Regions from separate parts of the Homo sapiens genome. Here regions 1 and 3 are each linked to region 2. The links come from fine-mapping of genetic effects on gene expression. A gene starts in region 2. Each other region holds a variant in brackets. All regions are shown on one strand. Distances are from middle to middle.

Evidence for each region. PIP is the estimated chance that this variant, and not a neighbour inherited with it, causes the effect.
Region 1: its variant is fine-mapped to the expression of LIG1 in whole blood (TOPMed, PIP above 0.99).
Region 3: its variant is fine-mapped to the expression of LIG1 in whole blood (TOPMed, PIP above 0.99).

Annotation. Positions count from the first base shown.
Region 1 is chr19:48,117,437-48,122,652 of GRCh38, forward strand. It overlaps LIG1 (DNA ligase 1), which reads right to left. Exons shown (of 28, transcript NM_000234.3): 24 at 3,734-3,886; 25 at 1,701-1,754; 26 at 202-345. Among named protein-coding and RNA genes, the nearest start is that of PLA2G4C, 9.2 kb to the left of the region's middle. RefSeq lists a silencer at 4,531-4,720. The variant G/A (reference allele first, on the strand shown) is at 2,531.
Region 2 is chr19:48,167,192-48,172,407 of GRCh38, forward strand. LIG1 (DNA ligase 1) reads right to left here and starts at 3,153. Exons shown (of 28, transcript NM_000234.3): 1 at 3,050-3,153. It overlaps ZSWIM9 (zinc finger SWIM-type containing 9), which reads left to right and starts at 3,489. Exons shown (of 4, transcript NM_199341.4): 1 at 3,489-3,523; 2 at 4,603-4,886. The coding sequence starts at 4,612. RefSeq lists silencers at 2,592-2,661, 2,692-2,741, 3,542-3,681 and an enhancer at 2,635-3,294.
Region 3 is chr19:48,134,859-48,140,074 of GRCh38, forward strand. It overlaps LIG1 (DNA ligase 1), which reads right to left. Exons shown (of 28, transcript NM_000234.3): 12 at 5,113-5,216; 13 at 2,664-2,830; 14 at 2,150-2,226; 15 at 1,176-1,267; 16 at 822-921. Among named protein-coding and RNA genes, the nearest start is that of LIG1-AS1, 8.4 kb to the right of the region's middle. The variant G/A (reference allele first, on the strand shown) is at 2,787.

The sequences.
Region 1 (5,216 bases), 50 kb before region 2:
GGCACGAGCCCCCATGCCCGGCCCATTTTTAAAGAAAAAATGTTTTGATCTTTTTATCTGACACTCAAATAAAATGCAAGCTCATCTTCCTGATCCTTACCTGGAAGAGCAGATGTGAGCCAAGGTCCCCTCCCTACTCTGCTCTCTGTGTGCCCGCCCAGAATCCCACACAGGGCCACGGCCAGGTCCTCTGCCACTCACCAGGCCCCGCGCAGCAGGGTAGATGGGAGAGAGGGAGAGGTCAGCGCACTTCACCTCCCACACAGCGCTGGGGTCCAGCCAGTGGTCGGGAATCACAGCGCCATCTATCCGCACGTAAGGGCGTGGGCTGGGCAGCACCAGCGCCTGCAGTGAGCAGAGGAAGAGAGGAACAGAGGGTCTGGAATCTCAAAGTCAAGGCCAAGTGTTGGAGGGCTGGGGAGAGGGAGGAAGGGAAAAAAACAGGCACCCCCTTGAAGTAAACAGAAATAGGAAGTGAAATAAGGGAAAAGAAACAAGACACCCCCTTGAAGTAAACAGAAATAGAAAGAGAAACAGAAAGTGAAAGAAGGGAAAAGAAACAAGACCCCCTTGAAGTAAAAAGTTGAGAAAGGTGGGAGTTGGGAGGAATGGGAGATGGAAAGAAATGAAAGGCCCTGGGGGCTGAGGCAGGACATTAAAGACAAAAAGAGGCAGAGAAAGGGCCAGAGACCTGGAGGAAGGAGACAGAGACACAGTGGGACAGGGACAGAGATGTAGAGAGAGAGGGCAATGGAGAGAGAGAACCAAAGAGTGGGACAGAGATGGTGTCAGGGTCCGTGTGTCCCCACCCACATCTTGTCTTGAATCATAGCTCCCAAAATCCCCATGTGTCGTGGAGGGACCTGGTGGGAGGTAACTGAACGATGGGGGCAGGTTTTTCCCGTGCTGTTCTCGTGATAGTGAGGAAGTCTCACGAGATCTGACGGCTTTATAAAGGGCAGTTCCCCTGCACACGCTCTCTTGCCTGGCGCCATGTAAGATGTGCCTTTGCTCCTCTTTCGCCTTCTGCCATGACTGTGAGGCCTCCCCAGCCGTGTGGAACTGTGAGTCCAGGAAACCTCTCTTTATAAATGATCCTTTTTTTTTTTTTTTTTTTTTTGAGACAGAGTCTCACTCTGTTTCCCAGGCTGGAGTGCAATGGCATGATTTCAGCTCACTGCAACCTCTGCATCCTGGGTTCAAGCAATTCTTCTGCCTCAGCCTCCCAAGTAGCTGGGACCACAGGCATGCGCCACCACGCCCGGCAAGTCTTGGGTTATTTCTTCATAGCAGTATGAGTATGAAAATAAACTAATACAGATCCAATATGTAGGACAGACACTCATGCCTGAAATGCCTGTGACCATGACAACATTCATTCACATTGATCAGGGCTCACAGGCACTTCACAAGGAGCAGCTATGGCACCTGCTGTGTCCTTTGGCTAACCCCTGGTGTGAATGAGGCACAGGGCTTGGGGAGGTGAGGCTGCTTGAGCAGGGTCACCAGCTAGTAGCCGGCAGTGCTGAGACATGAACCTGGAGATGCTGGACTCCAAAGCCAGCTCCACTGCCTGCTGCCCTCCTGCCCACACCTGGAGCCCCAAGATGGTGGAAGCCAAGAGCCCTGCATGGAAGGACTGTGCTGTCAGGGGCAGGGGGGAGAGGGGTGGAGGCTGAGGCGCAGCCGCCATGGCTCACCTTGAGGCTCTGGTGATGCTCCTCCAGCTCCTCATCACTGAAGCCAGTTCCAAGCTGCAGGGAGGAAGCGGGAGGTCAGAGGCTCAGCCAGCCACAGGCCCAGCACTTGCTCCTGCCATCTAAAGCTGTGTACACTCATGGCCCCCACCCCACTCTGGTCTACGCAGTATCCACAGAAAACCAGGGAAGTAGGGAGCTGGGGGTGCGGAGCATCCATCCAGAGACTCCCGGGTGGGAATGTTCTCCCAGCAGGCCTGCCGTGAACCACTCCCTGTCTTCTGCTTTATGGAGAAACTCTTGCTGCTTCCACTGTCTCCCTGGCCCCAGGAAGTCACTCCCTTATGCTCACCCACATCCTCACTGCCCAGTAACTGGCTGTCCTCACTTCCAGTCTTTTTTTTTTTTTTTTTTTTTTTTTTTGAGACAGGGTGTAGCTCTGTTATCCAGGCTGGAGTGCAGTGGTGCAATCTTGGCTCACTGCAACCTCCACCTCCTGGGCTCAAGCAATCCTCCTGCCTCAGCCTCCCAAGTAGCTGGGACCACAGGCATGCACCACCACGCCTGGCTAATTTTTTAAAAAAGTTTTTGTAGAGGTGGGGTCTCACTATGTTGCCCAGGCTGGTCCCGAACTCCTGGGCTCAAGTGATCCTCCCACCTCAGCCTCCCAAAGTGCTGGGATTACAGGCGTGAGTGGCCATGCCCAGCCCATCTCCAATGTTAACACTGCCAAGAGCTTCTTTCACCTACCAAAATAGGAAAGGCTAAAAATTAGCAGTAATGCTGGATGCTGGCAGATACGCAGCAAGTGGGCAATAATCACCAATATAAAC[G/A]TCACCTGGAAAGCCCCTTTTGCATTGAGAGTCTTAAGGATTCTTTTTGCCTTTTGTCCTGACAATAGCTCATTTAAAAATCTATTCTAAATAATGCAAAATGGTGACAATGTAGATTGGTGGCCAAAACATTTGTGATTTATAAAAGTCACTTCTGTCACTGATCGTTTAGGTTAACGGACACTAAGTAATCACATTACCCATCAGAACAAAGCCGGCAACAACTTCCCCACACAGCCACGGGGAGCTGGTTCAGGACACAGCACTATGTGCTATGGGGCACAGCACTTGAAAACTCTTGTGCGGGCATTCAGGTCCTGTTGCCATATTGCTTAAGGGCATATACAACACTGAAAACAAAGTACTTCCAGGGTAAAAAGGCAGAAAAGAAAATTACTCATAGAGAAGGATCACAACTTTGCAAAAATGTAAATAAAACATTCCCTCAAATGTCACTACTGCGTGTCTCTGGGTGGTACGATTCTAGGTGATATTTTGTTCTGTTTCTGTGGCAAAAGACCCAAATTTGTTGGAGAGGGGAATATAGGAAATACGTAAGAAAATCTAGTCCAAAATGTGCACAGCTTTAAGAAAAACTTTAACTTGAAAAAAAGTAAATCACTTTACATTTCCCAGAATTCCTTGCAGCTAGGGGTGAGCCATGGAGCAAAGTGATGAGCAACAGAACTTGAGCAGAAGGTGTTCACTGGCTGAGGCTGACTCAGGGTCCAACCCCCTTTGCTCTTCCCTGGTGCGTGGAGCAGGCATGGCCATGAGGGCTGGAACTCCTGCAGCCACATTGTGATGATGAGGCCAGAGGCACATGGCAGAAAAAAAAAATGTGGGGACAAAAAAAAATGTGGGGAGAGGAGGAACCTGAATCCCTAATGGCATCAGACTGCCCCCTCCACACTTCTCATTTCATAACAAAAAAATTCTTTTCTTATGTGAGCCACCACTATTTGTAGCTAATCTCAATCTCTCACTGACACACATTCCTGACATCTTTCTATCCCAGCCTGTTTTTCTATATGAAGCAAGAGTTGCTCATAGAACCAGAAAAAGTAAATAAAAACTGGGGAGAACGGATCCTTCACAGGGGGATGTGAGCACCCCTCGGTCTGGGTTGTGCAATAGGAAATACCCCCGGGAGTCTAATCTCCTTCCCTCCTGCTTCTGCCATCAGCCCCAGTTCCCCAGGACCTTGCATATGGCCTGCAGCTCCTCACTGTCCTCGTCGTAGGAGGCCAGCAGGAAGCCCCCGTACCGGCCGGCCCGCTTCCCCCGGCCCAGGTAGGCGCCGATCACCACCAGGTCCAGGGTGTCACCCACGCCATCAAGGTAGTCCTTCTTCAGCTGGGAGAAGGGGAGGCAAGAGATGAGAAGGGGGAGCGCCCAAGGCGGGGCCCTCACTGCTGGGGAGGGGCTCCTCAGTGGACTGAGGAGGGACTAGAAGTAAGTCTGAAGGGAACTTCCAGAAGGAACCCCAAGGATGGCCCCTGGGAAGAGACTGGACATGGGAAGGGTTTCTAGGTTTAAATAAGAACAAATGGGGCCGGGCACGGTGGCTCATGCCTGTAATCCCAGCATTTTGGGAGGCCGAGGCGGGTGGATCACCTGAGGTCGGGAGTTCGAGACCAGTCTGACCAACATGGAGAAACCCCGTCTCTATTAAAAATACAAAATTAGCCGGGCGTGGTGGCGTGTGCCTGTAATCCCAGCTACTTGGGAGGCTGAGGCAGGGGAATCGCTTGAACCCGGGAGGCGGAGGTTGCAGTGAGCCAAGATCGTGCCATTGCACTCCAGCCTGGGCAATGAGAGTGAAACTCCGTCTTAAAATAAATAAATAAATAAATAAGAACAAATGGGAAACGCAGGCGGGATCGATGGGACCTCAGGAGTCAGCCTTGCCGCCGTCTTTCCCTCAGGACAGAGACGTGGCCAACTCACTCTGGCCACTCCTCCAAAGGGAGAGCATTTTCCCATTCGTTCAGAAACGTTCACTAAGTGCTAACCATGTGCCAGGCAGAAGCTCAGCCCTGGGGGCACAACAGTGCTATTTCCTGAGACAGGAAAGGTCTGTGCTGGAGGGAAACCAGCCACAGACAGACATAAGTACACAGGAAGAGCTAGTCAGCAGGCCTGGCCGGCTCAGTGCCACAATGCCTCCCGCTCCAGTCCCCTTGTCCACCCCTCACTGCCCCTCTCCACTCAAACATCCATCAACTCTTACTGATGACAGGCTCCTGCTCGCTGGCCCTCAACACACCCGTCCTCCACTCGAGGGGAAACCCCAGGAGCTTCGCACAATGACAACCTGTGACTCCCGGCACGGAACCCCCACTGACTTCCTGAAACCTTCAAGAGGAAGATCCAGTTTTATCTCACAGTGGCCCCAGGTGCTGCCTCATCTGGGGCCTGCTCCCCACTCTGAGCTCACCTCCCGCCTCGCCTGCCCTTGCTCCCTGCACACGCAGAGGCTGCTCCTCCCTCAGGGTCTCTGCACCGGGGGTTTTCCTCCCTAGTGCTCTGTCCCTCACTTTGGGAAAGACTCTTCCTGATCATCCGGGGCACTCCCAGCCCCGCCTTGCTGGCCCGGAGCTGACTTGCTTTTCTTCATGGCGCCCACTCCTGCCTGACTTTCTCTTATTCATGTCCTGGCTTAATTCCTGCCCAAGAGCCTGGC
Region 2 (5,216 bases):
TTTATAATGGAAGAAAATAAATTACACATTATAATTATGTAATTATAATTATTTACATTATATTTCCTTCCACTATGAATATATTTTTTAAAAAAGGACTAGCAGGACCTCTGCGTGGATTGCTTGAGTTGAGACCAGCTCAGACCAGCCTGGGCAACAGAAATGGTTTTCTTTGACTTTCCCTTCCTTTGCACAGAAATCTTCTTCAACCCATGGGGTCCCCTTTCGTTTTCTGGAATCAGTACTCTCTGTCCCGCACCACACGCCTCTAAGTCTCCACTACTCTCTACAGCCTTGGCCGCCACATGTTGGCACCACAACTCAAACTCAATTTTGGAATCAAAAAACTCAGTAGGCCGGCACTGTGGCTCACGCCTGTACTCCCAGCACTTTGGAAGGCTGAGACAGGCGGATCACGAGGTCAGGAGTTCAAGACCAGCCTGGCCCGCATGGTGAAACCCCATCTCTACTAAAAATGCAAAAAATTAGCCAGGCATGGTGGTGCCAGCCTGTAATCCCAACTACTCAGGAGGCTGAGGCAGGAGAATCACTTGATCCCAGGAGGCAGAGGTTGCAGTGAGCTGAGACTGCACCACTGGACTCCAGCCTGGGCGACAGAGCGAGACCCCGTCTTAAAAAAAAAAAAAAAAAAAAAAAAACAAACAAAAAAGAAACTCAGCAATTTCCAAACAGAGTTTCTCAGGGCCAGTTGGGGAGCAGGAAGTAAGCAATGCTTCAACCAAACAGTTCACACAGAAAGCAGGTTAGGGACTTAGCCACCAAAATCCTGAGGGCAAAGGAGAAAACTATTACGATCCCTCCTGAGTGCTCAACTGCCTAGGTACTTGACATTCTCAATTATACTGACTCTCCACAACAACTCTGTTACAGAAACTAAGGCACAGAGGGGTTTTCAAAGGAACTTAACCTGCATCTATAGTACGTTCCACCCCAGGTCGGCCTGCTCCACAGCTCACCTCTTAACCACCAGACTGAGTTGCAAGGGAAGGAGAAATACATAAGCGTTTACTGGGAAGCCTACTCTATGCCTGACAGGCTGATCACATTCTCAAATACCCTCAATCCTCAAGTCAGCCCTCCAAGACAGGTGAGATCATCCCCACTTTATAGATGAAGGTAATGAGGACAGAGGAACATAGCTGGGGTTCAGGCAAGGCTTCAAAACCCGGTGTGGCTGGCTCCAAAGCCCACGTTCCTTTCTCCTTACCACGGTACTCAAGGCTGGCTTCTCAACTCTGTGTACTGCTGAGTTGGGGGGAACAAACTGGTTGATGCCTCTGGAGGACCACCTGGCGTCTCTATCGGAACGGCAACCCCACTTCTGTGTATTTGGCCCACAGAGACCCTCACAGGTGGACCAAGTGAGGCACAAAGTTACCTGCTGCAGCACTAACTGTAATGAGAGAAGACTGGAAACTGGTGGAATGTCTACCCTTAGGGAACTGGTTCCCTCATTACTGGAATACCATATGGTAGAATATTGTTCAGGGTTAAAATTAAATGAATGATGGATAAAAGGTATAGGAGTTTTTTGGGGGGATGATAAAAATATCCTAAAATCGATTATGGTAATAACTGCACAACTCAGCGCATACACTGAAAACCACTGACTTGTACACTTTAAATGGGCACTTTAAATACACTGAAATACACTTTAAATACACTGAAAACCGCTGACTTGTACATTTTAAATGGGCAAAATTGTACACTTTAAATGGGCAAACTGTATAATTGTGAATTATATCTCAATAAAGCGGTTACCAAAATGAAGAGATAATGACAGGAAAAATATCAAGTAAGGATGAAACAGTACTCAGTAATAAAAAGAAACGAAGCACTGATACAAGCAACAACTTGGGTGGACCTCCAGGGCATTGTGCAGAGTAGAAAAAAGGTAACATCCTAATAATATATGATTCCATTTACATAACAATCTCCGAATGACAAAACTAGAGATGGTGAACACATTAGCGGTTGCCAGGGGCCTGGGGAGGAGTTCTTATGTGGAGAGGGAACTGTTCTATATCACAATTACGATGGGGGTTACACAAATCTATACAAGGAATCAAGCTGCACGGGCACACAGATGCACAATCACACTCACACCACACAAACTGGTGAAAACTGAACAAGGTCTGTAATCTAGTTAACAGAACTGTATTGATGTCAATTTCCTGGTTTCGATATTGGGACTACATAAGATGTCACCATTAGGGGAAGATGGATATACTCTTTTCACAACTTCCTTGAATCTATAATTATTTCAAAATAAAAAGTAAAAACAAGAGGTAAGCTCCATCCCTTTATCAAGCATACATTAGGCCAGACGTCTCCCCATTCAGATGATTCTCCATCTTTTACGAGCCCTTTACCTAGACCTGGACCTTACCACTGACCTCTCCCTGACACCACCCATCTCCCTCCAGTAGGGCCCACTCCTTCCAGGTGATGCTGCTGCCCGCGATTTACCTTCTTCTAGCCCCGCCCCCTCAGCACTTCCAGGTGGCCCCCGCCCCCTCAGCACTTCCGGTTCCCAGCCAGCCCCACCCTTGGCACCTCCCCCTTCCAGGTGGCCCCGCCCACACGCAATCTTTTCCCCGGCCCCGCCCCTTAGCTCCCTTCAGCCCCTCCCCCTCCCAGATAGCCCCGCCCCCTCGGGGGGCCTTCCGATTTCCAGCTGGCCCCGCCCACACAGTTTTCCCCCCCCCGGCCCCGCCCCTCAGTTCCATTTGGCCTCTCCCCTTTCCAGGTGAACTCGCACCTCAAGGCCTCTTCTCAGAGGACCTGTCCAACTGTCTCTGTCTCTCGTCTACCCTCTACCTGGCCCCCCTCCCTCTGGGAGACACCTCTCTGCACTCTCCGGCGGCCCGCAGCCCGCGCTCTTCCGTCTCCACCGCGCTCTCGGCAGCCTCAGCGTCCCCACGCCCACTCCTCTGCAGACACCCCGACATGGCGAAGCATAGGCCCCAAGCATTCGGCGCACCCGCCGCCCTCCGCCTCCCATCTGCTTGCGGACGGCCCCACTTGCCTTGCGTTGGTCCCGCGCGCCGCTGCCCGGGCAACACACTCAGATCCGCCAGGCGCGCCTCTGCAGTCCCAAGTTCGCGCCACGGCATTCGCGCGCAGACGTCTGCGGGCGGGGGCGGGGCAGAGCCTAGGGGCGGGACCTGGGCACCGTCCGCACCGCCGCCGTCGCGCGGAGGACACTGGGAGTCGTAGTCTCCCGAATGGGAGGAGGGCGGGAAAAGGGGTGAAGTGGGGCGAGCCCTCCCGCAGAGCACACTGGGAAAATGCCCGCGCTTTCCCTCGCCCTGGATGAGCGGGTGTGGCTGAGGGTCTGAGGAGTGACTGGCAGGGAAAGAGGAGGAATCGGTGGAAGCGCCCCCGCGAGGCACGGCGGGAAGAGAGGCGGGAGACCGCGCGGGGCATCCCGGGAGCAAGGGCCGGGCCAGGCCTGGGCGCGGGGCATTGTGGGAGGTGGACGCCGCTCCGGGGCGGGTAGGTGAGTGGGGAGGGGCGGGAAGGGTGCACATCTTGGGGAGGGGAGAGGCACAGCTAGGTGGGACGGCGGGGCTGGAAGGTGCCGCAGCGGGCGGGGAGGGGGGGAGTAGGAGGGTCGGGAGCGGGCTGGATGGGGCTGCTCGAGGGGAGACGCGCAGCTGGACGTGGGGGGAGCATCTGGGGTGAAGGAGCCCATCCGAGGACGAGGGGCCATGTCTAGAACGAAGATGCATATTGCGGGGGATGGTGGATGTAACTGGGAGGAGGGGCCCACAGCTGGACTGGGGGCCGCATCTGAGGAGGAGGGGACCACAGGTGAATACTGGTGACACTTCCGAGGAGAACTAGCCACAAGTGGGGCACACACCTGTAGGCGAAGCGTGGATAACTGCATGTGGGGAGTACATCTGGAGATGAGAGTGTCTCAGGGAAGCCCCAGCTACAGCTGCATGTGGCGAGCCATAGGGTCATAATCGGGGGAAGGGGCAACAGCTGCACGCCAGAGGCACATCTGGGGAGTGCGGAGCCACAGGTGCATGAAGCATGTGACCGGGTGAGGGGTCCGTGGCCTGGATGTGGGAGCACATCTGGAGATGGAGCGTCTTTGGAGGGGTTACAGCCAACTGTTGGCACATGGAAGGAGGAGTTCCAGATGAATACGAGAGTTAGAAGTTACTCTTGGGTGAGAGACACAGCTGGAAGGGGAGGAGGTTTTAGCTGGAATTTGAGAACACATTTGAGGAGATGTCCTTAAGGGACATCTGAGCTTAAGGGTCGTATTTTGGGAGGAGAGATTCCAACTGTACCTAAGGGTCACATCTGCGGAGGAGGAGACGAGTTGGAATTAGGAATCAAGATGACAGGCTCCAAGTGAACCAGGGATAAGGCGGTGGGAGGAGGCCAAAGATAGGATGGAGGTTGATATTTATATATTTGGAGAAAAACAGGCACGTCCGACCCCGGGCTACCCACCTCGATAGAGGCACCAGCAACCGACGGGGCAGGCCAAGAATGGAGTAGATGAGATACCCCGGGTGGGAATGGGTCTGATATCCACCTGTTCTCCCCTCCTCCACGCAGGCCCCCAGGATGGAGCGGCCGGAGCCCCCACCCGGCACGGCTGCGGGGCAGGAGGAGCAGGAGCTGCGGGAGCGGGCCTTCTTCTCGTGGGCCGAGTTCAGCCGCTTCTTCGACGCGTGGTGCCAGCAGCGGCTGGCGCTCTTCTTCGTCAAGAGCTCCATGCACCTGGCGCGCTGCCGCTGGGCCAGTGCGCCCCCGCTCTACACGCTCATCGACGTGCTCAAGTACAGCTACGTGCGGCTTGTGTGCAAGGACGTGCGTGCGCCCAGCCGGCCCGCCGTGGGGTGCGTGAACCTGAGCCGCTGTCCTGCTGGGGGGAAGGGGAGCACCGGGGGTGGGTGTGGGTGGGAGACGGGCAGAGAACACCCCACCCAGAGATGCAGAGGGGGAGAGGCCAACTGAGGCAGCCAAATACACCTTGCAGAGAGGCGGGAGTCAAGGAGGGACATGTACTGAGAGAAGAAGAGGAGCTAGAGAGACAAAGATACTCACGGAGCAAGAGATGGTGTGGGCCCGACTTACAGACTTTTTTTTTTTTTTCGAGATGGAGTCTCGCTCTGTCGCCCAGGCTTGAGTGCAGTGGTGCCATCTGCAGCCTCCACCTCCTAGGTTCA
Region 3 (5,216 bases), 32 kb before region 2:
GCCATCTGTGGAACTGCCATCGGCCCTCCTGCCTCTGACATCCTCTCTGGGGCAGTCATGATCTTGGAGTCACCAGCCCTGGGTCAGCTGCTGGCCTAGGTCCCTCCACATGGCTCTCTCTGGAGCCCTCGTGGCCGCTCCACGGATGTCCTCTCCATGACTGTCAAGACCCTTCACCATGTGTCAGTCACCTGCTCCTCTCTGGGTCCCTTAAGGCCTTTCTGCATGCACAGCCCTGTCTGGCACTCAGAAACCTCATGTTGCCGGCTGCCCTCCCTTGCTGTCAGCGTCTTTCTTTTTTTTAAGACAGTCTCACTCTGTTGCCCAGGCTGGAACGCAGTGGCGTGATCTCAGCTCACTGCAGCCTCCAACTCCTGGGTTCAAATGATTCTTGTGCCTCAGTTTCCCAAGTAGCTGGGATTACAGGCTAATTTTTGTATTTTTAGTAGAGACAGGGTTTCACCATGTTGGCCAGGCTGGTCTCAAACTCCTGACCTCAAGTGATCTGCCTGCTTCAGGCTCCCAAGTGCTGGGATTACAGGCGTGAGCCACTGTGCCTGGCCGCTGCCAGCGTCTTTCTATACCTCTCCTGGGGTCACTGACCCTTCACTGTTTGCCACCTTCCTGATCTTTGTCACCATCCTTGTGTCAAGCACCAGCCTTGTCTAGATCACCACCTCTGCTCTCAGTCACCCCGTGACCGGCACTCGTGATGCCTGTCCGTCACTTCACTGGCCCCACCCACTGCTCCTCTGGCTCCACCCCCACCCTGGCACTCTGCCCACAGCCCCTGGCAACTCCACCCACTGCCCAGCTCTCACCAGAACGTCTGCTTCAGGATCATGCCTTGCTCCTCCAGCCACGTCTTTCTGGCCTCTGCTGTCTTGCCCTTCCCAGCATCCACCATGGCTGGTGGGAATTCTAAGAAAAGACCCACCAGAGGCTTTGGAAGGCACCCACATCCTTGGCTACACCAGGGTGCAGTGGGTGGTTTGCTGTATGGCAAGGAATGCAGATGCCGCGGCCCAAGACGCCCCCTCCCCCCCACCCAGGAGAGAGGAGCCTGGTATGGCAGGGGCCCGCTGGGGAAGGGGCGGGCATGGGCCTCTGAAGAGGAGGGGGGAAGCCTGAGGTAACTCCAGCGAGGGATGCAGAGACGGGCCACAGGAGCTCACCTTGGCCCGGGGGCGTGAGGCTCACTGCCTGGGAGAGGGCAGCCAGCACCGACTGCTCTGCCAGCCCAAGGCGCAGCCGTCCGCTCAGGGACCTGGGGAGAGAGCAGGCCAGGGAAGGGGGCTTGTCTGCACCTCCCCAATCTTGCCTCCTCCCTTCTCTGATCTCCTCGACCTTGATGTATGTAGACCCTCTCCTCAAAAACCAGAAGAATCTTCAGAGCCTGGAAGGGACCCCAGATATCACACAGCCCCATGTGACAGATGAGGAAACTGAGCCAGGCAGTAATGATCCTGCCCACTAGCATAGACTGGGGAGGGGCACAAGTAGGTGCACCAGCACCTCCCATCTCAGCTGCCCTGAGGGGTTGGCGAGGCTTGAGGAGGATGAGTCAGGGAGAGAACTGAGCCTGGCGCCCGCCCTGGTGACTGTAATGGTCAGGACCCCAGCATGGTCCTTGCTTTGAGCCAGTGGCAGGAGACAAGTGGCTTAGTTTGCCTCCCCATGTCTCCATTTCCCCTTCTATAAACTGGAGGTGAGGGTAACAAGACCAGTCTCACAGAGTTGCTGGTAGGAACTGATGAGGTAAGGCACGGGGCACAGGGCAGGGCTCCCAAGAAATGCTCCATGATGTGAGCCCTCAATGGATTTGCTCTCACTGTCATGGCAAACAAACCCTGGCTTCCTGCTGCAGGGCCCGCGCCCAAGCCGAGGCAGACCTCACCAATCAATCACAGCATGCTTCACCCACAGGGGCCCAGGGGCCTTCTCTAGACAGCACTACCAAGGGACAGAAGCTGGCCTGTGAAAGGAAATGGTGTCCCTTCCCACTCTTTAGGGGCTGGGCCTCCTGCTCATGCTTTTCTCATCCAAGGATGGTCAGGGCATTTGTGATGATTCCAGCTGCCAGTCCCTCCCTCCTTTCACCTCCGAGCCTGCAGTCCCCCTCTGTAGCCTCACAGGCCCACACGCTTACCTAGCGATGAACCGGGCTTCTGAGTGGCGGCAGGCCACAAAGAGGCCTTTGATGATGTCTATCTTCTTGGCTGTGGACTGGAGAGTCAGGGGAAGAGCCGTCAGTGCCTGGTGAAGGCAGGGACCACACCTCCACCCCACCAGCCGTGCTGCTGCCCTGCATTTTGGAATACCTGCCCTCCTTCCCTCACCCCATCCCCATGTCCCAGCTCCCATGGCCGCCCACTCTTAGGGCAGTAAGAACGAGCTAGCTCTCCTCCTTGCCTCCCTCTCCCTTTATCCAGGAAGTATTTACTGAGTCCTGTCATGTGGCAGCCATGGCATTAGGTCTGCTAGACTCTGAAGAGGAGACTCCCCTAGGATTGGGTGCAGGAAGGAGGAGAGGAAGCTGTGCACCCCATGAGAAGGACTGATGCGACCCAGCTGATGGTCTACCCAGAAGCCTTCCTGACACACGCGTGGCCTCAGGTCCCCAAGATGTCTGGGGTCCGGGATGAGCGGCCCGCCCCACTCACAGCACTGCCAGTGAGCCTGGCGATGTCGCGGAACTTGCTGAAGACCCCGGAGGCAGTGAGCGGAGGTGGTGGCAGCATGAGCCTCTGGGTGCTGCGGCTGTTCTCGGCCACCAGCCCCACGTC[G/A]CCTTTCTCGGCTGCCTCAGCCCGGACGGACTCCAGCTGCCGACCTTCAGGGGAGAGCGCGGGTGGGGGTGTCGAGGGTGACAGTTGTGGCTGCGTGTCTCCCTTCTCTCGCGGCCTGGATGAATTTTCTCCAGCTGTGTGTGCTTGTGGCGAGTCCCTGCACCTCCCTGTGTCTAACGCTCACCCACTTGGTAGAAATGGCTTGGGGAACGTGCCCCCAGCCACGCTGGCTGTAGGAAGTCAGCAAACATGCACGTGGAGCCAGGAAAGCGGTGGATGAACGAGCATGACCACACTCAGGGGAGACATCTGGGCCGGTGTCATCAGGGCGCGGATGGGATTTAAAGCCACAGGCGGGACAAGGTCACTAGGGAAGTGAGTGTGGACAGAGCAGAGAAGGCCAAGGGACCCTTTCCTCTGGCGGGTCATGAACATCTCTGGCAGTGACCAAAGACCCTTCGGCTTGTTTTGGAGCCACCAGCTTACACACGTGGGATGTGCTCTGGCCCCACTTACTGTCCAGAGCTGGGTCCCATGGGCGCCTGGGTGTAAGAGCTGGGGAGATGGAGCCTCAAGTCACGGTGACAGCTGTGACAAGCAGCTCTCAACCTATCAGAACCAACACACCCTTGTCACCAGATACTGTGTGTCACCTCTTTTCTGGTCTGAAATAAAATGTGGAGATAACATAACCTGCCTACACCTATCGAGATAACGCCCTAACCCTAACACAGAAAAGAATGAAAGGGAAAGCAATCCGTAATGAACGAACAAGTGCGCGTTTCAGTCCACAGATGCTCAGCCGCGGCACAGAGCACATGAAGGTGGGCCTCGCGCCTGAAGCGAAACTGCCACAAATGGGAGAGCCGACAGTGTGAGCCTCACCAATGGGATGTTATCGAATCACACATCAAAGGGGACGGGATTCTCCAAAGTGGCCAACAACTCACAACAAACCCGGGACTTGGACAGCCACGGGGGCCACAAGGCGGCACGGAGAGCAGTGTGAGTGTGAACACGACCCATCAAGGGTGGAGGCATGAGACAGTGGAAGAGGCCCCAGCTGCCATGGATTGTTGGGCAGGAAAGCCAGCATCTGCAACTTCTTTTGTGAGAAAAACAGATCCTTCTTTGTCCAAGCCAATGTAGTTGGGTTTTCTGTTACCTGCAGCTCAGAGTATTCTTAACCGACCCCGTGTGTGCTGGGTCTGGTATGACGTCAGTGCTCCCGAAACACATCTTGAGTGAATGAGTGAGAAAATCTTGAGTCTCATCTCCTCTGGCTCCCATAAGCCCGTAACTCTTTCCTGATCCAAGTCAACCTTTCTCAGTCCCTCTGTCCTCTCATGAAAGCCTGAAACCCCTGCCTTCCCTAAATGTTGGTGCCCATGGCCCTAAGCCAGCTCCAGTGCTCCCAGCACATCCTCTCCCCAGGCGGATGAGAACCCACCAGTGGGTGGTCATCCCTCCTACACTGACCAGCCCGAACCCTGGGCTCTGAGCCAGACCTGGTGAGCCTCAGACCCGTTTCCAAACTTCCTGGATGGCCCTGGGGGCCCACAGATAGAGGTTGCTCATGCCTGCCCCACGCTGGGGTGATTAATGCCCCCTGCAGGTGCCTGCCCCTCACCAGGGTCCCAAGCTGCCGACGGCTTTGTCATCCATCCAGTCACCCAGGGAGATCCTGGAGGCATTCCTCCTGCCTCCTCACCCTGACATCCACTGTCTGCCAGATCTCTCCTGCCCTCTTCTCTCTTCTCTACAGCTGGGGTCCAGCTCCTCTTCCCCCTGGATGCTGCCCCTTGCCTGCTCACAATCCTTCCATGGCTCCCCAGTGTCCTCATGATAAGCACCGAGCACTCCAGGCCCTTGGCAGGCGGGCCATCCGCATCACCAGCCTTTCCACCCAGCACTGGCGGCTGGGCCCCTTCAGGCTGCTGGCCCCCCACACACCATGTTCTTTCCTCCCACTCCTTCCAATCCCTCCAGTCAAAGTCCTTTCAGACCTCTCTAAGCCCCAACCTTCCATCTCAGCCCCCAAATCCTGCTGTCTCTGCCTCCAGCATCTTTCCCCAGCCCTCCCCTTCCCTGCACCCCACACCCCCTGTCCCAGCACATGCCTGGTCCTCCCTCACCTGAACTGCTGCCCCTGTGTTCTCTCCCACACCCCTGCAAATCTGTCCCCATCAGGCTCTCCTCCCTCTCAGCCTTCTCCTCAACCCTGTTTCACAGCCTCTCTCCACCATCTCTCCGATCCACCTGACCTCTGCATTTTCTCTGGCTGAGCTCCTGTCCTTCTGGTCCCTCCAACCACAGTCCCCCTTACCTGTGGCCTGGGCCACTGCCTTGAGAAGGACACCATCACCCACGCCAAGCTCCAGGCCCTGCTGGGGTGGCCCAAGGTGGTTGAGGCTGAGGTAGAGGACAGGG